Linked DNA regions of Homo sapiens: region 2 is linked to region 1. The links come from fine-mapping of genetic effects on gene expression. A gene starts in region 1. The other region holds a variant in brackets. All regions are shown on one strand. Distances are between the middles of the regions.

Region 1 (12,513 bases):
TTCCCATCTGGGGACTTTTAATAATATAATTTTGTGTAACTACTGACAGTCTTGGTAGCAGAAAGGGCATCCATGCCATTTCCCTTCCAGAAATTTCCAAATGGTCTCTGAAGATCTCAGAAGTAAGACTCTCATTTTTGCTAACAAAAGGAGGTTACCTAGCTAACTCCACCACTGCATTAATGTGTACATTTTGAGTACATCATTTTTTTTGGTACATCTTTTTTGAGTACAACTTAGTACACTAAGTTATAAATGGACTGGACTTGAAAATATTTAAATTTTAACCAAGCATCTAAGAAAACTCCAATTTGACTACAGGCTTCAGGTCCTTACCATATATGTCCCAGATTTCTGGGACAGTCCCAATTCCAAATATTCAGTATTGTGGTCAGACAAGTATTTTGGTTCAGGAAGTATGAAGTCTGCCTCAGGGAAAGAGGTAGGTGGCTGTCATAGCCCTAGTTTGCATTTTATAGTTTGCTTATATGGAGAGCAGATCTTGGGCAGCCTTCCAAAACACCAGCATCTGAATTATCTGTTTAAAATTACGAAAAACACCAAGTCATCCAATGTCAGGACTATTTTCAGTTTCCTGTCACTATATTCAACCTGAGCCCAATAGATTGTGTAATCTATTTAATAAACAATTTCTCCCTACCTGGCTAGCCCCAGAGATGAACAATTGTCACTAATCCAGGAAAGATTCCATTCAACATGTATTCACTCATAGCCCTGGGTTCCGTATGAGGTGAGGTATGTTACAGCAAAATTCTTCTCCTTTCAAAACCAGAAATAATAATAATTAATAAGCTTCTGATAATGGTTCATCCCACATTGTCAATTTATCTTTTGGAAGAAGATCAAAATGAATTAACCATAGAGAAGTGAAGCCAAACGGCACAGTTTCAAGATTTGACTGTGAGAACAAAACTTTTAATTAGGAGTTTTGAATTCTTCTCATGAGATCTGCAGGATTCCAGACCTTATCAACACTTGGGAAAATCCAGTGGATTTTTTTTTTTTTAAATAACCCCATGTTCTTTGCTAACAGGAAACAGAAAAAGACTTTTTTTTTTTTAATTTGGAATTGGTTCTGTTGTAAATTAGGATGACACTACTAAACAGTTTCAGATATAAATTACTTTCAATGATTTTTTTTTCCCTTTCATCCAGAACTGGAGCTTGTATTTCCTGTTGATAAAAGAAAAAAAAAAAAGGCACTGTATTTACCAACCTCCCTGATCCAGCCAATCCCTCTGGCCTCTGTCTTTCAAATGAATGTGGAATTTGCTTGAATCTGAGGAAGTTTAGAAGCGGAGCTCCAGACCACCCACTTTCAGGATCTATAAGATGGTGCTGGAGTTAGGCTGAGCTGAGGCACTAATGCAAGCTCATGGGTTAGACCAGAGGTTCTCTTGACTCCATCAGAAAAAGTAGTTTGCAAATATCTTCTTGCTAGTGTCCTCCAGTGGAGGGGCTGACTCCAGGGCCCCTGGCTGCTGACACAGGTTGAATCAATCTACTTGCATGTGTGGAGGAGCCTCTTTTTATACACAAAATGTATTTAGGTGTCTTCATTTTTTATAAAGTGGGATAAGAATGCCGAACATCCTTCCATCCATTACCTATTATGTCTTTCTACTAGGAAAACTGCCTTGAAGTCAGGGTTGCTTCGCATTTTCTGGTGAAGCACTAGTGCTGATTTTACCAAGTCCTAGAATCATAGAATATTCAGCCTGGATCCTTGTGAGTTCTTTTATTTGACGGGTGTGGCGACCATGGTCTAGAGCGCTATGAGGACTTTCCTAAAGTAATAGTGCTACTACTTATTTATTTGCTAATTTATTCATGCAACAATTTTTTCACATCTGCTATCTTCTGTCCTTAAAGAGCTTACAGTGTGTTCTGGAAGATTGCCGATAAGAAAATAAACATTACAGCCAGGCACTGTGGCTCATGCCTGTAATCCCAGTACTTTGGAAGGCCAAGGTGGGAGGATTACCTGAGGTCAGGACTTCAAGACCAGCCTGGCCAACACGGTGAAACCCTGTCTCTGCTAAAAATATAAAAATTAGCTGGGCGTTGTGGCGGGCACCTGTAATTCCAGCTACTCAGCTACTCAGGAGAATCGCTTGAACCTGGGAGGCAGAGGTTGCAGTGAGCCGAGACCGTGGCATTGCACTCCAACCTGGGCAATAGAGCAAGACTCTATCTCAAAAAAAAAAAAAAAAAAGAAAAAAAAGAAAGAAACATTACAAATGGTGATATATTTCATGAATGAAACAGATAGGCTGCTCTTGTAGAGAAAGAACAGGTGAGTGGTGGGAAGGGCCTCTTGGGTAGGGTTGCCAGGTTACGTCTTTGGGAGATGCGGTTTTAGGCAGTGGGAAGAGGAAATTGGGGGTGTGCTGAGAGTACGTTGCTGATAGAAGGAGGCAGGGGAGTTATGGTAAAGAAATGAAGACAACCTCAGGCCTTGATTCTCTGGCAGAAATCCTTTTCAGATTTCAAATGAATATCACTAGATCTTGAATGACCAGTAAGGTTTATTATTAGATATCATTCTAAACTGCTCTTTTTTTCTTTCATCTATCACAGTGGAAATAATATAAAGGCTACACCAAGTGAGGTTTTAGATAAAAAACTTATTCCATTACATTCTGATATAGAGAAGAGATGACGTTTACACCACCAGGCTTGCTGGGTTCTAATAGAGATAAATAAGCTCTGAGTACAAGATATGCACAAGGATAACTCAACACAGCCCAACTCCTGATTGCCCCTCCTCAGCTAGAAATGGACTTGCCTTTGGCTGGGTGTGGTGGCTCACACCAGTAATTCCAGCACTTTGGGAGACCTAGGCGGGCAGATTGCTTGAGGTCAGGAGTTCAAGACCAGCCTAGCCAACGTGGGAAAACCCTGTCTCTACTAAAAATACAAAAATTAGCAGGGTATGGTGGCATGCACCTGTAATCCCAGCTACTCGGGAGGCTAAGCCATGAGAATTGCTTGAACCCAGGAGGCAGAGGCTGCAGTGAGCTGAGAACGCACCACTGCACTCCAGCATGGGTGACAGAGTGAGACTCTGTCTCAAAAAAAAAAAAAAAAAAAGAAATGGACTTGCCTTCCATGTGGCTCTAGGTCTCCCCAATGGCACTTAGAACAATCTAGTTTTTCTGCATCCATCTGTCCTCTATGGTGTCTTGTAAGTTCCTTGAGGGCAGGGATGAGTTGAACTCATTCACCAGCAAACCCATCACCCAGCATATTGCCATGCTCATGAAGACTGCTCAATGAATGGTTGAATGGTTGATATAGAAATACTTAATCTTTAGGAAGATGTGATGCTGGAAAAACAGGGCCATTTTTCCCTTTTATGGCTTTTGCACAGTGCTTGTTATAGGGAACCCACAATTATTACTGTTCTTACCAATAACTGAAAAAAGGCTGTTAGAGGATCCTTGCTTAGTTCCTTTGATGAGGCCATTGGCTCAGTGACAAGAATATTACTGAGGATGGAGAACCAAACATTGAGCTGTTTAGCAGAACTTGCAGCAGAGCTATCATTGCATCATTCTGCTGAGATGTGAAGTAATGTCTGAGCCTTCGGTTCCCACTGTAGGGCAGCTCAGCCTGTGCTCCCAGTTCGGACAGTGACATAAACCCTGCATCCTGTCTCCTGACCCTTGCTCTAGAGGCTCCAGGTCAGTCCCACAAGAGGCAACTTGGCAGCCAGGCCCATTAGGAAGTACATGCAGCCCCAGGAGGTTCTCACAAGTATAGATCAACACTGTGTTTGCCATGGAAAGTTTGGAGGAAAGACTGTACGCCACTCAGTGAAATCCTTTCCTCTAATTCTCTGCTCCTGTCCTGCTTGCAAGCAAAGGAGAACAGCACAAGGAAATTGGGAACTGCATTGTTCTGAGGCCATCTACCCAAATGAAAAACAATGTAAATATTTCACACAAATCCCAGGTCAAATTCCTGTATATACCAAAGCAGAGAAATTTCTCTGAAATGATGGTCGTGGAGAGTAGTACCAATGATGAGAGAAGTTAGGAGTAGAACCCAGAGCCAGTCTGTCCCTGCGTGATGGGTACCGGGGGAGATCCCTCCTACTGTACCACCGTTCTGCAGTCACACTACTTCCTCATTAGAAAAACGCTTTCTCAGTGGCAGGGGAAGGGTTTAAACGCTCCAGAATCTGAGCTGACAATGGGATGTTGTTGCAGGTCAGAAGTGAGAGATAAAAACAAAGATAATAAAAAGGATCAATGCCCCTAATTTGTTGATTGGCTCTCTGCCCCAGCTAAACACTCAGCCAACACCCAGGGAAACTGGGCCACAGTTAACTGGGCATTTGGGCCAGAGGCACTAAGAGGTGTTTATTATTTAGTAGTGGATTCCTGGCTGGGCACGGTGGCTCACGCCTGTATTCCCAGCACTTTGGGAGGCAGAGGTGGGCAGATTGACTGAGGTCAGGAGTTCGAGACCAGTCTGGCCAACATGGTGAAACCCCGTCTCTACTAAAAATACAAAAAATTTAGCTGGACATGGTGGCCTGTGCCTGTAATCCCAGCTACTCGGGAGGCTGGGGCAGGGGAATTGCTTGAACCAGGGAGGCGGAGGTTGCAGTGAGCTGAGATCACGCCACTGCACTCCAGCCTGGGTGACAAGAGTGAAACTCTGTCTCAAAAAAAAAAAAAAAAAAAAAAAAAGGTGGATTCCTGAGAAGTCCAGTGTGGTGCTGCTTGACTGTTGTCCTAGCTACTTGGGAGGCTGAGGGAGTATCCCTTGAGCCCAGGAGTTTGAGTCCAGCCTAGGTGACATAGATTCTGTCTCTAAAAAAATTTTTTTTTAAATTGTTGGATTCCTATGTCCATAAGGAAGACTTCAGGAATGACAAGCTTGCCTCCTAATTTGGCTCCTCCTGAAGATACAGTATGACCTGCTTTACTTTGGGTTTAACATCCTATAATTACTGTCAGATGAAGAGAGACAAAGATTCACTGTATTTCTTACTAGTTTCTTTTTTCTTTATTTTTACCTAAAACATAAGCTGAAAAGCAGCAGAAAAAGAAAGACCCAGTACTTCAGACTAGCAGTGGGGCAAAACCCCCACATTTAAAAAGAAATACTAGTTTATTATGTTTGGGGTTGGAATCACCAAGAGACCAATTAACACCTTATTTTTAGGATTAGCCATTCTGGTATTTGCAGATAGTTTCTTAAACAGGACTGTTTGGAGTTCACACTGTAGGAGTAAGTGAAGTGTTGATAAAAGAGATTCCAGAACAAATAAAGATTTCTACAGTAAAAGCTGGGGAGGTGTGTAGGGCTCCAGTCTTTGGGTTCACAGCTTGGCTCTACATTCATTGCTGGAGGAATCCAAGCCTCACAAAAGACCGCTTTTAAAGAAAAACTCTATTTTTCTTAGAAGAACTAGGTAAGTCTAGTTTTTCTCTGAAGTTTGTTTTGTTACGTGTCTCTGTTACCACCATCCATGCAGTTCTGGGGGCCTGCATTTCCCAGGATTTGTAGCTTTCGGCTGAATTGAAAGTTTCTAGCTTGGGAATCAAATCTTTGTTGTTCTTGCTTGCAACTCGTTGTTATTTTAAATTGCTTGCATAATTGCCAAGGTAATTTGCATTTAGAAGAGATTGACTGCATTTTCTTTACCCATCCTTTGCTGTATTCGTTTGGTAAGCTTTTAAAGAATAAGTTTTGTAACGGGGAAGGTGGAGGTCAGATATTGAGGGTCAATTTGGTGTCTCACTCAGAACCTGCCTCTCTGCAGCATTAATGTGGTTTCTCTATGCTGTACTTTCCCACTGCCATCTCCTGGGGAAATAAGGCGGGGGGCTTCTTTCGAAGAATCTATAAAGATTAGATTAATTACTGGCCCACAATCCCATTATGTGAACTCACAGAGCCAAAGAACATTAAAGCTGGCAGAGAATAATTTAACCTTATTTTATAGATGAGGAAACTTGGGCCCAGAGAGGAAAAATAATCCCCCTACTTCTCCCACAGTCTCAAAGCTAATTACCAGCAGAACTGGAACAGAAACCAGGTCTTTTGATTTCTAGATTAGGATTCAACAAGTATTTAACTCATTAATTAGAATTTTCCTAGTTCCAACCTGGATGTCTTTCAGAATGGGTGGCTCAATTTTTATGTTTGCTGTTAAGATTCCCTCAGGGCTGCCTGGCTAATTTTATTACTATTTTGATTTTACTCAGTCAACATTTCAGAAATTTGCAGTCTTCCCATCATCTGTGTCAGAACTATCTGTTAAAAATGCAAATCTCTAGCCTTTTCCAATCTTCAGAATCCGAGTCTCTTAGAGTGCCCCCAGGATCTGCATTTTAATAAGCTTCCTTGGAAGAGTCCAAGGCACTTGAGAACAATTTTACTTGGCTCAAAGTCAAGTAAGTTAATACATTTTGTCGATTTAAAATGTTAACGTTTTGGAAATCAGGTGGCACCTTCTCATCAATGGTCAAGTAGGAAAAAAGTTGTTTTTTACATAAATGTTGTATCTGATAATCAATAGCGACTTAGGAGTTGAGGCCATGTTAAATTTCTCTTTTAAATCCTTTAGTTACTAAAAAGCAAAAACTTAAATTTGTATCTGAATTCAATTTCATGGCATTTGATTCTTTAGTGCTTAAGTTCTTCTTTAGTAGCAAAGAAAAAATATTGGGAAATTTTATTTTTTCAGGCCATGGGCAGCCTTTACTGAACCGTTATCTCCACAACTCAAGTCCTGTTCTACAGATTTTTCAAGACTGTTCATTATAAGACTCTGCCTTCTATTTTATAGTTTTTACTTTCTGAGATTACCTCTAAATTTTCATGCATATTTATTGTAAAATTTCTAACAAAATGTAGAATGATTAACTATCTCTATATTCCTGAAAGGGTTAAGGAACTTACCATGCATTTTCTATTCATTGAATGCCACTCCCATAGTATTGCTATCTAGGTTTTTAGATTTACCTTTTAAAAACACACATTAGTTACTTAAAGTAAATAGTTAATCATATTTATCAATGATTTCTCAATTTTGGGGCTTAGCATGTGAGTGATAACACACTCAGTCTTTTTTCTTGAAAATGATTTATTTTACTCTGCTGTGAATGATAGTTTACCTGGGTATAGAAGCCTTGGTTGATAATTGGTTTTCCTCAAGGCTGTGAGAAGATTATTCTGCTGTTTTCTGGCACCCATTGTAGATGAGAGTTAGTCTAATTGTCTTTTCCTTGCAGGGCAGCTGTCTTTTTGCTTTGGAAGCTTTCAAGATTATCTCTCTGCCTTCAATGTTCAGTAGTTTCACTGAAAAATGTTTCCTGTTATAGGTTCGTTACTATGTATTCTTTTTGGCACTTGGTGTATGTAACCTTTTCTTCTGAGAACATATATCATTTTCTTCCATCTGAAAAGTTTATAGTATCTCTTTGACTATTGATTCACAGATATTTTCCCCTATTTTATTCTTGAACTCCTATTAGACATATGTTAGATCTTCTCAATATGTCTTCCATGTCTCTGAATTGCTATTTCATGTTTTTTCCCCTTCCTTAACTCTTTATTGCTCATTCTGGGTAAGCTCCTCTATATAACCTTCTAATTTATTAATTCTCCGTCTTGTTATACCCAAGACAGAGTTAATCCTGTCTATTGAGTTTTTTACTCAAATACTATGGTTTTTATTACCAGAATTTCCAACTTGTCCCTTTTAATATCAACCTGCTCTTGTTTCATTTTTTAGTTATTTTCGTTCACAATTTACTATTCATTTTTATGAATATTCCTCCTTTCTTTTTCTCCTTGATGGTTCTAACAATCCCTATTTTATTTTATTTTTATTTTTCTGAGACAGGGTCTTATTCCAGTTGCCCAGGTCAGTGTGCAGTGATGCAATCTTGGCTCACTGCAGCCTCAACTTCCCTGGCTCAAGTGATTCTCCCACCTCACCCTGTTGAGTAGCTGGGACTACAGGTGCATGTCACCACACCTGGCTAATTTTTTTGTATTTTTAGTAGAGATGGGGTTTTGCCACGTTGCCCAGGCCACAATCCCTATAGTAAATTCACTTTCAGATTCTATTACAGGCATATCTCAGAGACACTGTGGGTTCATTTTCAGTACAATGCAATAAAGCAAATGTCACAATAAAGTGAGTCGCACAAATTTTTTGGTTTCCCAGTGCATATAGAAGTCATGTTTATACTATTCTATAGTCTAAGTATGCAACAGCGTTATGTCTAAAAATGTACGTCTCTTAATGAAAAAATACTTAATTGCTAAAAATGCTAACAATCATCTGAGCCTTCAGCAAGTTGTAATCTTTTTGCTGGTGGAGGGTCTTGCTTTGATGTTGATGGTGGCCGACTGATTAGGGTGTTGGTTGCTGAAGATTGGGAGGTCTGTGGCCATTTCTTAAAGTAAGACAACAATGAAATTTGCAGCATCAATTGACTCTTTCACAGAAGATTATTCTGTAGCATATGATGCTATTTGATAGCATTTTACTCACAGTAGAATTTCTTGCAAACTTGGAGTCAATTCTCTAACTTTCCCACTGCTTTATCAACTAAGTTTATGTAATACTCTAAATCCTTTGCTGTCATTTCAACAATGTTCACAGCATCTTCACCAGGTCTAGCAGATTCCATCTCAAGAAACTACTTATTTGATCATCTGTAAGAAGAAGCAACTCCTCATTCTTTCATGTTTGATCATGAGATTGTAGCAATTCAGTCACATCTTCAGGCTCCACTTCTAATTCTAGTTGTTTTGCTATTTCCACCACATCTGCAGTTACTTCCTCCACTGAAGTCCTGAACCCCTCAAAGTCATCCATGAGGGTTGGAATCAACTTATTCCAATATCTTGTTAATGTTGATATTTTGACCTCCTCCCATGAATCACAAATGTTCTTACTGGTATCTGGAATAGTGAATCTTTTTTAGAAGATTTTCAATTTACTTTGCTCACATCTATGAGAGGAATCACTATCTATGACAGCTATAGCTTCATAAAATGTGTTTCTTAAATGGTAAGACTTGAAAGTTGAAATTACTTCTTAATTCATGGGTTGCAGAATAGATATTGTGTTAGCAGGCATGAAAACATTAATATCCTTGTTCATCTTGATCGGAGCTCTTAGATGACTAAGTACACTGACAATAAGCCCTAATATTTTGAAAGAAATCTTTTTTTTTTTTTTTCTGAGAAGCAGGTCTCAACTGTGGGCTTAAAATATTCAGTAAACCATACTATAAACAGATGTGCTGTTTCCCAGGCTTTGTTGTTTCACTTACAGAGCACAGGCAGAGTACATTCATCATAATTCATAAGGGGTCTAGGATTTTCAAATGGCAGATGAGCATTGGTTTCAACTTAAAGACACCATCTGCGTTAGTGCCTAACAAGGAAGTCAGCTTGTCCTCTGAAGCTTTGAAGCCAGGCATTGACTTCTCCTCTCCAGCTAGGAAAGTCCTAGATAGCATCTTCTTCCAATAGAAGGCTGTTTCATCTCCACTGAAAATCTGTTGTTCAGTGTAGCCACCTTCATCAATGATCTTAGCTAGATCTTCTGGGTAACTTGCTGCAGCTTTTATATCAGCACTTGCTGCGTCACCTTACACTTTTATATTACGGAGATGGCTTCTTTTCTTAAACCTCATGAACCAACCTCTGTTGGTTTCAAAGTTTTCTTGTGCAGTTCCTCACTTCTCAGCCTTCATAGAATGGCTTAAGTGAATATTGTGGCTGGTATGATTTTCTATCCAGACACTCAAACTTTTTCTATATTAGCAATAAGGCTGTTTTGCTTTCTTATCATTTGTGTGTTTACTGGAGTAGCACTTCTAATTTCCTTCAATAACTTTTCCTTTGTATTCACAATTTGACTAATCATTTGGCCTAGCTTTCAGTCTGTTTCAACTTTCAACATGCCTTCCTCACTAAGCTTAATCATTTATGGCTTTTGATTTAACATGAGAGTTGCGGGACTTTTCCTTTTACTTGAACACTTAGAGGCCTTTATAGAGTTATTAATTGGCCTAATTTCAATATTGTTCTGTGTCAAGGAGTAGGGAGGCCTGAGGAGGAGAGAGATGGGAAAATGGCCGGTTGGTGGAGCAGTCAGAACGTATACAACATTTACCAACTAAATTCATTGTCGTATGTGTGTGTGACTTGTGGCACTTGAAAATAATTACAATAGTAATATCAAAGATTGCTGATCACAGATCATCATAACAGATTAATAACAATGAAAAGTTCGAAATATTGTGAGAATTTTCAAACTATGACAGAGACATAAAGTTAGCACATGCTTTTGGAAAACTGGCATGATAGACTTGCTTGAAGCAGGATTGCCACAAACCTTCAATTTGTGAAAAACAAAGTGTCTGCAAAGAGCAATGTAATAAAACGAGGTATGCCTGTATTTCCATTTCTTCTGGAATGAATGTATCCCAAATATTGATTTTCTTGGCTCCCTTTCTTAATGTTAGTTTTCTTTAATTGTTTTAGAATTTTAACTTGTGTGATGTACATTTCAAGTGGCATCACACACACTTTCTCTCTTCTTGCTATACCTTTCCCTCCCTGCTTGGTCACAGGGCCCCAGTCCACAACTTGGTTTTATGTTGGTGGCCCTGAACTTTTATCTTACGATGATATTCAGATATTACAGATTTAGTCACTGAATCAGGAGGCAGGTTGGCCCAAGTCTTGGTCATACCTGCTTGTTCCTACTTTTCTAGATGCACATTTATATAAGCCCTAACCTTAGGTAACAGCTGCACCTTTTTTTAGGGCAGAAGTTCCTCACCGCATTTAGGTTCAAGCAATAAGCCTGGATCCAGGCACCAACCACCTAGGGCCCTTTTACTCCCAATACTGCAGAGGAGTTATCTTGCCTATCTGTGTGTGTCTCCAGAGCCCACAAGCTCACAGCTTTAGTAACTACTGTGTTATATTTCTGGTCTGTTTCTAGCACATAGATATTTATTTTTCTTTATGTATGTATGGGCATGTGGTTTACTTTTTTTAAAACTTTCTTTTAAATTCGTTCTTAAAATATTTTATTTATAATTGCTAAGTGTTTGGAGTGCAGGTAGCGACTTCAAAGCATGAGCTTACAATGTCATTTTGATCTGCAGAGGCAGGCTCTGGGGATGAAAATAGCAGCAGTTCCTATGATGCCATCTTTGAGACATCTACCATTACCGCTACTGCTATGTTGATATTGTCCTTTGTTTCCCATCTATCAAGCATTATTCTCCTAAAAATGGCTCTGTGTCTGACAAAGCCCACTCAACATAGATTAATTCTCTCTTAAATGACTTTATTAAGCTCATTAATGATTCACTTAGCAACCCCTTTTGTAATAAATTTGCAATATTCTCTAAAGAAATCGATCTGGAGAAAAGCCAGAGTGATTTAGGAAGGAACATGGTTTAAAAATGAGTGAGTCATTCTCAAAAGCACACAACATGGCTGTAGAAATATTTTAATATGTTTATATCTTCCACAGATTAAACTAAGATCCTTTGCCAATAAAAAGACAAACAATAGAAAATTCCTACAGATTAAGAATACCAACCAAGATTTCAGTGAACTTACTTGCTTCAGCTCTGGGAGAACAGTTATGACATGGTGCTGAATTACATCAGTGAGGAACTAGAGGTGAGACTGGGATACAGGGGAATTTGGGTTTAGAATCCCCTTAGCAATGCAGTATGCAAATCATGAAACAGCATAAAGACACATGAATTATGCAAGAATATATAAGGGGTTTCCAGAGAAACATCAATTTCCATTATTAAAAATGGTTTGGTAAAGCAGTCCAAAAAATCATTTTTGGCAGGTCACTATTTTTAAGTGAGTTATTTGAAGTTCATCTACATTTTTTTCCCAGCGTTACACTTGGTGGTTAGGACCCCTTGTTACAAGGGGCCATATTAACACATAATTGTGGAAATGGACAAAGAAACAATTTTAATTCATATGGTAAGAGACAGGATAAAGATATGCAGGTGAGGGGTTCCCTAACACAGTCTATGAAGGTCAGAGAAGACTTCCTAGAGGAGGTAATGTCAGAGCTAACCTTTCGTGGAAAAATAACCATGCATCAGGCAAAATGGGGTGGTGGTGGCAGGTAAGAGTAAGGGGAGTTGCAGTATTTCAAGTATGGAGAAAAATAGGGTCATGACATACATGATTATTACTTTTCAGATGACCAGCATCTGCACCCTCTTCCTTTTTTATGTTAACATGATGATTTTATTTTTTAAATTTTTATTATTAATATACAATATTTGCACATATTTATGGGATACATGTGATATTTTGTTAAATGCATAGAGGGTGTAATGATCAAATCTGGGCTTTCTATCACCTTGAGCATTTATCATACCTATGTGTTGGGGACATTTCAAGACCTCTCGTATAGCTATTTTAAGATAATACAATACATTGTTGCTAACTATA
Region 2 (12,513 bases), 140 kb after region 1:
GATGAGGTGGAGGGATAGGAGTGTGAGTAACCCATCTGGAGAGCCAAAGCCCAGAAGGAAGCTCTTGGGGAGGATGGGAGAGCTTCTGACTCTACTTTCCACTTAAGACAGCAGTTCTTTGTTAGCTGCTGAGTTCAAGGGCTCTGAATTGGGAAAGGCCAGGGGCTGAGCTCAGCAGGCCTGTATCTTGGGACTAACCTTTAAAATATTTGAAAACAGCTATTTAGCCCTCCCTTGGCTTTCTTATCACCAAAATAAAGCCATCTCAATTCCTTTAATCTTCCTTCCAGGGCCTTCAGTAATTTGGGTTGATCTGTTTTCTTTCCTCTCACTTAAAATGCAAAGCCCCAGGTTAAAATAACACATGAATATTTCTCAAGTTATAGATGTAATTATATTTTTTATGTTTGCTGTGTACTCTTTAGTGAATATTACTTTAATTCTCAGCTTTAACACTTTATACTTATTAAATATCTTCTTTTGCTAAGAAAAGTTTAAAATTTTTAATTCATTATTTTTCACCTGCTCACTAAATATTTCCTCCCAACAATATGCTTGCCAGCCCTCCCCTTGGTAATCAATGTCTTCTCAGGAGCCCCTGTGGTGAGCCTCCTCTTTTCATGACCTATTATTACAGAATTGCTACATTGCCATTGAAAGCAATGGCAAAAACTGCAATTACTTTTACACCAACCTAATATTTGGGTAAAGTTCCAGACTCTGATTTCATTAAGGAAGGACATCCCCCTGGCCAAATGTCAAATAAAGGAACAAACACAGCCTGTCAGTACAGTGGTGGTCTGGGGAAGTCTTCCAGGAGGTCCAAAGACTGAGTTTGCACTGGAAGAAGGACTGTGCTGGTATCTTGGAGTTATTTGTCAACATGGAGAGAAAACAGCTCATATTCTTAATTATGTTACAGTTGGAAAACATTGACTGAACAGTATCTGGCCTAATCATTTTAGGCCTTCTGAATACCCTGCCTGACAGGTGAAAGAAAAAGACATGGAAATTTTAGGAAGTCCTGAGTTTCATTCAAAGGTATTCATGAAGATGTTCCCTGACCCAGAGAATTCTTAATAGTTGGTCCTGCAGGTTACAGCTTGGAGGGATCTCCTTTCAGCCAGCCTTGCTCCTTCCAGAATGGTGCTGTCACTGATTCAAAGCCTCCTGGGCCAGAAGAAAGTGCCTAAGATGCACCTCCTTGGTCAGAAGAAGGTCCCTCCCCTGGGTCTTGCTACCTCCCTGGGCTCTACCAGCTCAACAAGGCCAAGTTCCTTCGCCGCATGGCCTTGGCATTCTGCTGGCTCCCTGGCACCTTTCCCTTTGCTGTCCAGGATTCTTTGATGCTTTCACTTTCTTTTTTCCTTTCTCCTTTCCTCCAGCCAGCCTTTCTCATCTAAACCATGTAACTCAGAAATATTTTTTAAAAATTCTCCCAAGGATGATAAATAAGTATCACTCTATTATAGAAGTTAATTCATTTGATACAATGGGCATTAAGGCTTAATTCTACTGTGGCAGTTTGGTTGAGAAAGACTGTTGGGACTATGGAATATTTTTTCACCATGGGGGCGGAGAAACTCTAGTCCCCTCAGTCTCACTTCTGTCACTGATGACAGTTGTCTCAAATATTCTGATTTTGTTGGGAATTCTCTCTGATCTATTAATACCAAGGGCTTAGGTTTTTAATAAATGTTAGGGAGAAAGAGACTCTCAGTGTTCCTCCCATGCAAACTCCTTCCCTGATACAATGGGCTCAGGATTTTACATTGGGGAATTTCTTGAATTGGGGAAGGACAAAAGAGGAGAAGTACTAAGGGAGAAGAGAGTCAAGAGATTGTCTTCTTATCACCTTTAGATGAGAGCTATCTTAAAATATATCAAGTCTAGTAAGTGAGACAAGAAGTAGTAGGCTTGTCTTACTTCAAAAGATACACGCGTTAAAGTTAATAATGCTAGTTGCTGAAACTGATGCCTCTCAAATTTCAATCACTAAACAAAATAAACATTTATTTCTTGTGCACATCACAGGGAGGATGGGGGTGGGGGTGTGTCTCTGTTCCACACAGTCATTCAGGGATCTAGGTTTCCTCATCTTGGGCCTTGCCCTCCTCCCTGCCTCCAAAGTCCCTTGCATTCAACTGGCATATGAGGAAAGAGCAAGGATCACATGTGGGAGGATATTATGGACCAAGCCTGGTGAGACGCGTAACACCTGGCCTACATTCCACTGGTGAGGACGCAGTTCTCTGGCTCCAGCCAACTGCAAGAGAGCCTGGAAAAGGTAGTCCAGCTGTGTGTCCATGAAGAGGAAGAGGACATGGGTGTTGGTGGTAACCAAAGTTTGGATGTTTGAGGGTCATAGATTTTGGCTCAAAATGAGATGCTAATTACTTGTGAAAATTAGTATGCTCCATGGCAGGCAACCTCATGAAGTAATATGCTTGTTGTTACTAGAATGTTGGTTGCAGAACAAATTCCTGCCATTTCCACTTTGGAGTCATGTAATTACAGTTCCCAAACAGCATAGCAATTCTTCCTACTCTTTTGCTTCCACTTTCCCTGTGGTGCAAAATGTTTGGTTTATATTACTGACCAAAGAGTGGGCCACATGGCTTTACCTCTTCTGGGGAAGGTCTTTTTAATTTTTCTCTTTTTTCTTTTCTATGATAACAAGCCGGAGTATGGATGTTTAGGTGGCCTTGGTTGTCAGCAGGCAGGGCCCGGGGGATCTCTGTGTGTGGGGAGGCTGAGCCTGCCCATTGCTGGTATACATGCCTCTTGGGGCAAAAGTTATCATGGTCCTTTTACATCAATAGAGCATAAGTAAAGGAGAGCATAATTACTATAAGGGTAACATTCCAGGATCCTAGTATTTTAATATTGGAAGATATATTAGAATTCATAGAGTCAAACCCTTTGTGTGCTGAATATGAAGAGGAACAGAGGGGTAAAATCCTTTGTCCTCAGTGTTATACAGCTAGAATGGACAACACACAGTTAGAACCTGGGCCTCCTGACTCCTAGACTTCAGCTCCAGCTTGTTCCTCTCACCAACAAAAAGTCAGGATTTTCCTATCCTGATGATATTGGTTGATGCAAAAGTAATTGTGCTTTTAGCTGTTAAAAGTAGTGTCAAAAACTACAATTACTTTTACACCAACCTAAAAGTATTATTCAATCAACCTTGTGCAGATCCTGGTTGGAACCATATAGAGACCCGGAGCCATAGGAAGCAGGAGACAGAGGATTTGGTTCTGCTCCCAGCTCTGTGTGGCCATGGCTGTGTGGAAGGCCCTTAGGTTCCTCAGATATAAACCAAATAATTTGATTAGATCAGTGGTTTTCAAATGATTTTTATATAGGGAGGCCCAGTGTCTTCTGGAGCTCCCTTAGTAGCTATTTTGGCAAACAGGAGTGGAGTTTAGCTATTTTACTTATCAATTCCTTGTTAACTTTTGTTAGAAGTTTCCATGACTTAAAATGGTTTGAAAACCCCTGGAGGAGATAGTCTCTGAGGTTCTTCCTGTCTTTAAAATTTTATGTCTCTTCTAAGTGTACTTCGGGTTTCATTATTAAGGTACTTCATAGAGGAGCTGTTTAATTGATGAAAGAAGACATGAAGGTTTGAGTTGTTCAAGAACAAACCAAGGTTTGCTGTTTGTCACAGTTGCAGATTCAAATGCCTTTGGGATCAAGCAGGTAATCTAAAGGAGGAATGACTGTGTCATGGGCTGAGTGTGTCTCCTCCAAATTCACATGTTAAAGTCCTAAACCTAGTACCTCAGAATATGACTGCATTTGGAGATAGGGTCTTGAAAGAGGTAATTATGTTAATGGAGATTCTTTGGGTAGGCCCCAGTCTGTATAACTGATATCCTTATAAGAAGAGGGAATTTGGATGCAGGCACGCACAGAGGGAAGACCATATGAAGACACGGGGAGAAGAGGGCCATCTATAAGCCAAGGAGAGAGGCCTCAGAATGAAATCAACCCTGGCGACACCTTGATCTTGGACTTCTAGCCGCCAGAATTGTGAGGAAATAAATTTCAGCTGTTGAAGCCACAGAATCTGTGGTGCTTGGCTACAGCAGCCCTAGCAAACTAATACAGAAAGGTGTGTGCATGCACGTCAAGCAATGGGGAGTTGGGGGGACCCCGGCAGTTTTGAGTGAGCTCATCCCGGTTGAAAGGGGAAGGTGCTCTTCAGCTGGGCTGATTGTTGCCGTGTGGGAATAGTGGCTCAGAGGTGCCAGATGTTCTGAATTTTCAAGTGAAGCAAGACATTTTTTTAAATGTGAAATTTCTCAATTGTTAAGATATACGACACGGGCAAATAAAACATGTCTGTGGGCTGAATTTGACCTACAGACCACTGGTCTGTGACCCCAGGTTTGAGGAAACAATTTAGAAGTGACCTCATGAAGCAGAACATAACTAGAGAGTAAACATTAAGAGCTGGAATACTGAATTAGAAGCCAGGACACCTGGCTGGCTTTCATGGCCAGACTATTCTGCTGTCTGACCTTGAGCCAGACCTCAATTCCCATTCATGTCGGACGAGGAGGCTGAAATCCCTTCCAGCAAAGGCCATCAGAGATTTCAAGTCTGAGTGCCATATTCTGTAAACATCAGAGAATTATGGCCAAGATAATTACTCTCCACCTGGCTATTTCTAAGAATAAGTGTCTGATTTTCTAAAGTCAAAAAGAAAGAGATGGAATGTCATTAAAGATTTAAGTACATAGGAGTAGATAAAATATCCCCATGTCAAAAAAAAAAGCTACTCAAACTGGGAAAAAACAAAAAACACAGGAGGAATTGCTTCAAATGACTGTCATTAAAAATATTGGCAAAAGAGAATAAGAACTTCTGCCTTTCATTATCAAAACCTGCTATATGAAGTTGTGTTCCTTTGCTCTTGTACTGGAATTGTCACTGTAGGGTTTTCTTGGCTCATTTTTTTTTTTTTTTGTCAGCATTTCAAGGACAAGGTATGGTAGACATGAACTAATAATAATAATGACTGAGCCCTTACTATGTGCCAGGTAATTTACATATACAGGCATTTCTGCTGTAACCTAAAATTACACTTTCTAGAAAATGTTGCTGTCTGCAAAACTTGGCATAAAAAATAATAGGACTTATGGGAAAAGTTGGGCCAAGGCAGACCATTCAAATCCCATGCAACTGTGATTAAGGAAAGCAATCACTACTACCTGGGGAGATCATTTGGACCACCTTGGCAGCAGCTGAGGGGCTAGAGGCTGCCACACGGGTATTAAAATGCACAAAAGCAATAAAGATGAAAAGCTGGTAACATTTTAATTAGACTGACACTGGCAGGGGCTGGGACAGGGCGATGGAAATGTAGCTTGGAGTCACAGGGCTGTTGTTAAGGTGCACACAGGAAGCCAGACAACCTTCCACAAGCTGAGAGCTCACAAGGCTGGAGGTGCACCTACCTGAGGAGGTAGCCCTGGTGGCAGGTACTCATTTAAACATTTCCTGGAATACAGCAAAAAGATTTCTGCTGCTGGTACAGCAGCCAAACCTCAAGCCTTTTCCTTCCCATTGAACGTTATGGTTCTACTCCTGCTATCTCAGGACTTCTTGGTTAGTAAAAATTACCTACGAAATTATGGAAACCAGTGCAATTTTCACATTATACTGATGTCATTTCTCTGTGATCAATCTCTGATGGGCTAATTCATACACGGAAACGGTAGCAGAACAGAATGTATTATCTTATTTAATTCTCACAATTCTATGAGGTATTGGAGGGAGCGGTGGTTCCCACATTAACATGCATCGGAATGACCTGGAGGACTTGTCAAAACAGATCCTTCTGTTCCATACCCAGAGTTTCTGATTCAGTAGGTCTGGGGTGGAGTCCAAGAATTTGCACTTCTAAGAAGTTCTCATAAGGTACTGATGTTGCCGGCTGGGGGACCACATTTTGAGAACTACTGTATTACAGGAAACTGATAATGGGCAAGATCTTATGACTTGCCCAAGATTGCTGCGGGAATGGACCCAAGGTAGGCCTAAAACTTGGGCCTAATGAGGGTACTAAGCATGAGAAATAGACCTTTTATGACCTATAAACACTTAGGAATGTGCTGAGGTTGGTTTCAGTAGTTACTTGCACCTAGTTAGCAGGCAGGTATGCAGCTCGGGCAGCTGGGGGGATGGGTTTGTGGTCAGCAGCAGCTGTATATTTTCATGGGGACTGGGAGACATGGGGGTCTATACCTCCACCTGCTGGCATGCTGTGTGGTCTCGTTTTGCAAGACATCTCCCTCAGTTTCTGTATCACCTGCTGTTTAGGAATTTACTCCTGGTGTGTGTCTGTTAGAGTCCCACCACCCATCACATGACCTTTCCCTGGAGGCAGCTGGCAGGCACCCAGCCTCAGGATCTCTGACTCTAGCACCCAGGAACTCTGACTGTTGCACCTGTGTCCTCCCCTGCTATGGTCTGAACGTTTGTGTCCTTTCAAAATTCACATGTTGAAATCCTAACCCCCTGTGAGGAGGTGGGGCCTTGTGGGAGGTGATTAGGTCACCAAGGCCTGGCCTTATGAAGTAGGCCCAAGGGAGCGTCTTTGTTCCTTCCATCATATTAGGACACAGCTGGAAGAGGTCATGTATGAGCCAGCAAACAGGTCCTCACCAGACACTAAATCTGCCCAAGCCTTGATCTCGGACTTTCCAGCCTCCATAACTGAGAAATAGATGTTTGTTGTTTCTAAGCCACCCAGTCTATGGCACTTTGTTGCAGTAGCCCAAACAGACTAAGACTTCCCCCAGCTGGTTGCAGTGCCCCCTGGAGACTTTTGTCAGAGCTTCCCAAAAGAGAGAAGGGAGTTTCCCTCTGACTGGCTTATACCCCTGCTTAGTGTGGCTTGCTTCTGGGATACATGAGACAAGGTATTTGAGTGCGGCTGAATAAAAACCTTGAGTTTGAGCCGCTCTGTGTGCTTACCAGATCTCTCAATAATTGACTTTGCTTGCTTTGTTTTTCAGGTTGTAAAATT[T/C]GTGGGGCAAAGGCGGTATGGAGTAATGACAGGAAAAAGAATGCTGTCCATTTTTACTGTGAAAAAACTCCCTATTTCAGAAAGATATACATTAGGGTTGTGAGGTTGTAGGCTGAATGAAGATTGGAAGAAACTTGTTGATTATTATTAAATGCCTCTCAATATTTCAGAAGACATTCCCCCACCCTGAAAGTATAATGTGATAGAAAGAACTATGGAGTTAGGCAACCTGTGATTTGAGTTGTGCGAAAACGGGAAAGTTATTTGTTTAGTCAAAGCCTCTGTTTCCACTTCCATCAAGTGAGATAATAATATGTACTTCACTAGGTTATTGGGAGGATGAAATGACTACCAGTACTGCAGATACATTTCTGATACCCACAGCTTCCTGAGCAAGGTATAGATTAGCTATCTCTTTGGTTTCCCTGAGGTAGCACAACAGAACCAAGAAAGTTCTTATAAAATGTGTTGTTCTCAATTTTGCACTTGCTTCGAAAGAACTAGAAACCAAGGCATGGTGCCATCTCAAGAAGACAGAAGCAGAAGCCTGCCAGAAACTGGCTTGGTTGAAACTCTGGTTCAAAGCATCAGGAAGCTAGCCATTTTCCCTAACTTCTCACTAACATATATACAAAGAGATTTTTAAAAAAGATAAAATGTACAACACTGAAAAATGACTAACAACCAAATTCCAGCATTTTGAAGAAACTGACAATAATTCTAAGCCAGATGGAGAGAACCGAGAATAACCGGTGTAGCTTTCCTCATATGTCATACCTCTACTTTGCCTCCCCCATTTGAAGACCTGGTGCCTATATCAAACAGAAAACTGTCCAGTTCTGTGAGGAGAGCAGAGTGCCTCTCTATACGTTTCTCCCACAGCCACCTGCCCTCTGCCTCTTGTCCCCACTCAGGCTGCCACCCTGTCATATTTAGGCCAAGACCCCAAATCTCAGAAAAAAGGTGATCAGGAAGTAGTGGTGTGCTGACAATGGTCCAAGGCCTGAGTGGGGTGGATACACCCTTGAATAATCCCTTCCCCTTGAGAATGAGTGGAAATTGTGACTGGCTTCTAGCCAGTTGAGTACCGTGAAGGTGATGGATGTCACTCCTGTGATTATGTTACATTATCTAAGAATTGTCCTAGTGGGCCCTAACAAGAGATTCTTTTGCTGGCCTTGAAGAAGTAGGCTGACATATCATGAGTGGACCTGGGAGAGGGCCACATGCAAGGAACAGAGGGGGCCTGTAGATGCCGAGAGCAGCCCTGGCTGACAGCCAGCAAGAAAGCAGGGACCTGCATTCTACAGCTGCAAGAAACTGAATTCTGCCAGCAACCCCCTGAGCTTTGAAGAGGATCTCAAGACCCAGAAAGAAATGCAGCCAGCCAACATCTTGATAGCACCCTTGTGAGACTCCGAGCAGAGGACCAAGCTAGGCCATCTTCAGACTCCTGCCCCGCAGAAACTGTGAGATAATAAATGTGTGTTGTTTTAAGTTGCTAAGTCTGTGGTCATTTGTTATGCAGAAAAAAAAAAAATAAACAAACCAGTACAATGAGTTGTAGTCTTTATGATGTAAGCATTGTGGCAGGAAATAAATAAACTCCCAGGAAGCAGAGCATGCTGGAAATGAGAATGATTAAATTGTTTCTCTGGAACCAGAAACCAGATAGTGGAGGTCAGGGGAAGGTACCACCTCAAGAAAACTGAAGGAAAGTCTGTGGGAAGTGAAACTTTGCCTGAGAGCTATAGATATACAAACCTGTCCTACAACTGTAAATCTGATAAAGAGATTCCAACACACTGCATGTGACCAGACAAGGGGTGAGAAGGGCCAGAGAAAATCAACTTTTCACAAACCTACCAAGAAACATCAAGGAAGAATAGGAAGAAACTTACAAAATCCTAATGTGAGACTAAAGAGAAGGCTTCCTATTGAAAATATTAAGTTTTTTTCTATAGATTAATCTATAATTTAATGCCATCCCAATAAAAATCTTAATGGCATTTTATTTGGAATTTGACCACATAATTCTAAATTATTCAGAAGAATGATCATTTAAGAATAGCTAATATATTTTTGAAAAGAATAATAATGAGGGTGTCTTTTTGCCTTATCAGAAAATTAAAACCATCTTAAATTCATAATGATTGTAATGTATATAGTATCAGCTCAGGAATAGGCAGGTGGGCTAATGGAACTCAACAATTTAAGTCCAGAACATACCCAAGGCTATGTATGTATGTACCCTTGTGTATTTGTGTTGTTTTGGTATACAATAAGGCCGGGCGCGGTGGCTTACGCCTGTAATCCCAGCACTTTGGAAGGCCGAGGCGGGTGGATCACGAGGTCAGGAGATCGAGACCATCTTGGCTAACACGGTGAAACCCCGTCTCTACTAAAAATACAAAAAACTAGCTGGGCGCGGTGGCGGGCGCCTGTAATCCCAGCTACTCAGGAGCCTGAGGCAGGAGAATGGCGTGAACCCGGGAGGCGGAGCTTGCAGTGAGCAGTGATAGCGCCGCTGCAGCCCCGCCTGGGTTGAAAGAGCGAGACTCCGTCTCAAAAAAAAAAAAAAAAAAAAATATTATTTCTAATCAGTAAAAAAAAGACTGGATAAATCTATAAATGGTGTTGGGAAGAATGATCAACCAATTGGTACAAACCATTTATATCACTACCTCATACATGACACACACACACACAAATTCGATCAATTTAATAATTATGTTAAATTAAGTTTAGCCCAAAGCTGTCTCCTTACATATGAGACTTTTGGTCTAAAGTTTCCTCCATATATAGTGAACTGAAACCCAGCTGGATGTGTAAACAGACTGCAACCTACTCATACAAATCGCCAAGCTTTAGCCAACCAAAGGCAGCTGATAGTTCAAACCAGGTTCAAATAAGGCAAACACAGAGCTGTAACCAATCAGGCTGTTTCTAGCATCACTTTTTTTTTCTGTCTGTAAATTCTCTTTGATCACATGCAGCGCTGGAGTGTCTCTGAGTCTATTCTGGTGGTGGGGGAGGTGCCTATTTGCAAACCGTTCTTTGCTCAGTTAAACTCTGTTAAATTTAATTTATCTGTAATTTTCCTTTTAACAATTATAAAAGATAAAAATGTATAGGTTAAATAAAATATGAGTGAATAATTTTGGTGTTTTGGGGGGTAGAAAAAGCGTTTCCAAGCAAGATACCAAAGCCAAGAATCATTAAAAAAAAAAGATGACTGTTATACTTTATCACACAAACAATGAGAACTTCTATGTGTCATAAAATTTCACAAAAATCTTGAAAGGCAAACAAATAGAGGGAAAAAATGTGATGTAAATGCCAGGTGTTGTTAAGCTTTGAGCTTTTACTAATCAGTTAGAAAAAAATAACCAATAGAAAAAATGAGCCAAGGCGAAAAAGAGGCAACCACAAAATACAGCAACCCATGTGTTTGCTTTGCTCTGCATACTTTTTTTTTTTTTTTTTCCCAGAAATTGTGATTTCTTGGGCTTCCAGGAATAGCGCTGTTGGGGCACTGCCCTTCTCCCCAGCCTCACTGTATTTTTCAGGAGCTGTCCAGTACCAATCATCTTTCTGTCAAGGTTGGTTTTCCTGCACATTACCCAGGAATTTCCAGTAAATGATTAGACCTTCCTTCTATTAAAAGATATTGCTAAATGGAGATTTTATACCCCTCCACAATTTCACCCTAAAGAATGGATCAATTACTAAAGCCTATTTTATTAAAATAATTATATTTCAAAATAGATATGGCTTTATCTTTTTATGATTATGAAAGCAATTCATACTTCTTGTAAAAACATTCCTATTTTTCAGAAAGATATAAAGAAAACGGCAAAAATGCCCTTATCTTGTTGTCCAAAGATAACTTCTATTTTTCTTTGTGTGTGTGCACACATTAATGCACATACATTCATGTGAGCATGTGTTTACTTATATTTTTATAAAAATGAGATCATACTTTCTTCCCAGTTCAACAATATATCATATCTTTCCACGTCAGTAAATGTAGATGTACCTCATCATTTTAAATGAATGCTTATTATTTTTCAAAATGAATATGCTGTAATTCATTTAACCAGTCTCCTACTGATAAAATTAAGGTTATTTTTTTTTCTTAACCATTATTAAGAGCTCTGTAATTGACTCTTTAATGCATATTTTTGGCCATGTGTCTGGCTACTTCCTAAGAATAAGTTCCTAGGACAGAGGTGATTAGTCAGTTGTCCTAAGGGAAAAAGAGCCAGACAAGATGATTTGATGCAACGGCAAGCTGTGATATTTGAGGAAGAGAAGAGATACTGAGTTGATCACAGTCACTGTCACTTGAATCTGTGCCCAGCCCAGCTCTGTGGCCACATGTTTGGGTCCTAGGGAGAGAGGAGGTGCTAGCTGCACTGTTTTCAGACCCTTGTGACAGTGGGTACGTGAAGGAGAGGGAGTTGCTCCTCCAGCTCTGATCCAAGCCATTATGTAGCTCTGGGTCAAGCCAGAGCAGGGGCAACCCCAGTGGGCTTGGGACAGTTTGTGTGTACTTTTGTGGACTTCATGGGGACTCCCAGAAACACAAAGCAGGGGCTGGCACAGACATGTGCCAGGGAAGTTTGAGTCATTACTTTTGCATGATTCTATCTATACCCAGCAGCAGGTAAGGCCTGGAGAAATTTAGATTATACTGTGATTACTTGTGGGTATAAACCAACTCTGTATGCTTAATGCTATGAGAATACTGAATGTACACTCTATTTTTAAGCACATACACAAGGCTTGTCCTTTCTGTCATTTTACAGTCTGAGTACCTTGGGGCTTGTTTTGTCTCACCTATTGTGTACTCAAAGCCAAGGTAAGGCCTCTTGGATTCTGTTGACAGCCATTTGCCAACTCAGCCATATGTCACTTAAGTTCTTTCACCTCTTTGTTTAAAATTGGGTATGCAATTGGTTCTCTCAAATGAAGCCTTTCAGCAATTTATAACCATATAGAGATTATGGTTTTTGTCTTTATTCCCACTTGTTAGCACAGTGCCTTCCCACAGTTCAAGGGAATCAGGTATTGAACAATAAAGAGCAACCAAATATCCAAAGTAGGGGAGTGCAGCAGACACTGTCTATTGTCATCCAACACTCATTCCCCTTCCTGCCCACTCTCCTTTCTCACTAAAAAAAGTCTAATTTATTCAGGAGCTGGGTAGAGGCTCATTAGTTTCAGCTTCCTTTCCAAGCCCCCAAAATAAAGCATGATTAGTTAAAACCAGTAACCATCATCTCACTTTGCTTGGCCTTTCGTTGGGTGAAGAATGAGTGTGTGATCCTGTTTTGGCTAGTGAGATGTAAAGGACAGTCCAGTGAGGTGAGTGTAGTTTCCCAAATGGAAAAAGACAAAGTCCCCCAAGAAGGCGGGGGGACTACACCTTCTACCTCCCTGGAATGGGGAGGTACCATCTAGAACAG

Alleles and levels. Alleles are on the strand shown, and positions count from the first base shown. SD is a standard deviation of normalised expression in the study named.
As copies of C replace T in region 2, the expression in prefrontal cortex of the gene that starts at base 5,346 in region 1 goes up (moderate effect, 0.43 SD a copy in GTEx).

Evidence for each region. PIP is the estimated chance that this variant, and not a neighbour inherited with it, causes the effect.
Region 2: its variant is fine-mapped to the expression of LINC01331 in prefrontal cortex (GTEx, PIP above 0.99). The same link has a PIP of 0.9 or more in cerebral cortex.

What each region holds. Positions count from the first base shown.
Region 1 is chr5:74,529,606-74,542,118 of GRCh38, reverse strand. LINC01331 (long intergenic non-protein coding RNA 1331) reads left to right here and starts at 5,346. Exons shown (of 4, transcript NR_197436.1): 1 at 5,346-5,449; 2 at 11,558-11,709.
Region 2 is chr5:74,389,054-74,401,566 of GRCh38, reverse strand. All of the region lies in intron 2 of LINC01331 (long intergenic non-protein coding RNA 1331), which reads left to right. Among named protein-coding and RNA genes, the nearest start is that of LINC01333, 74 kb to the right of the region's middle. The variant T/C (reference allele first, on the strand shown) is at 7,043.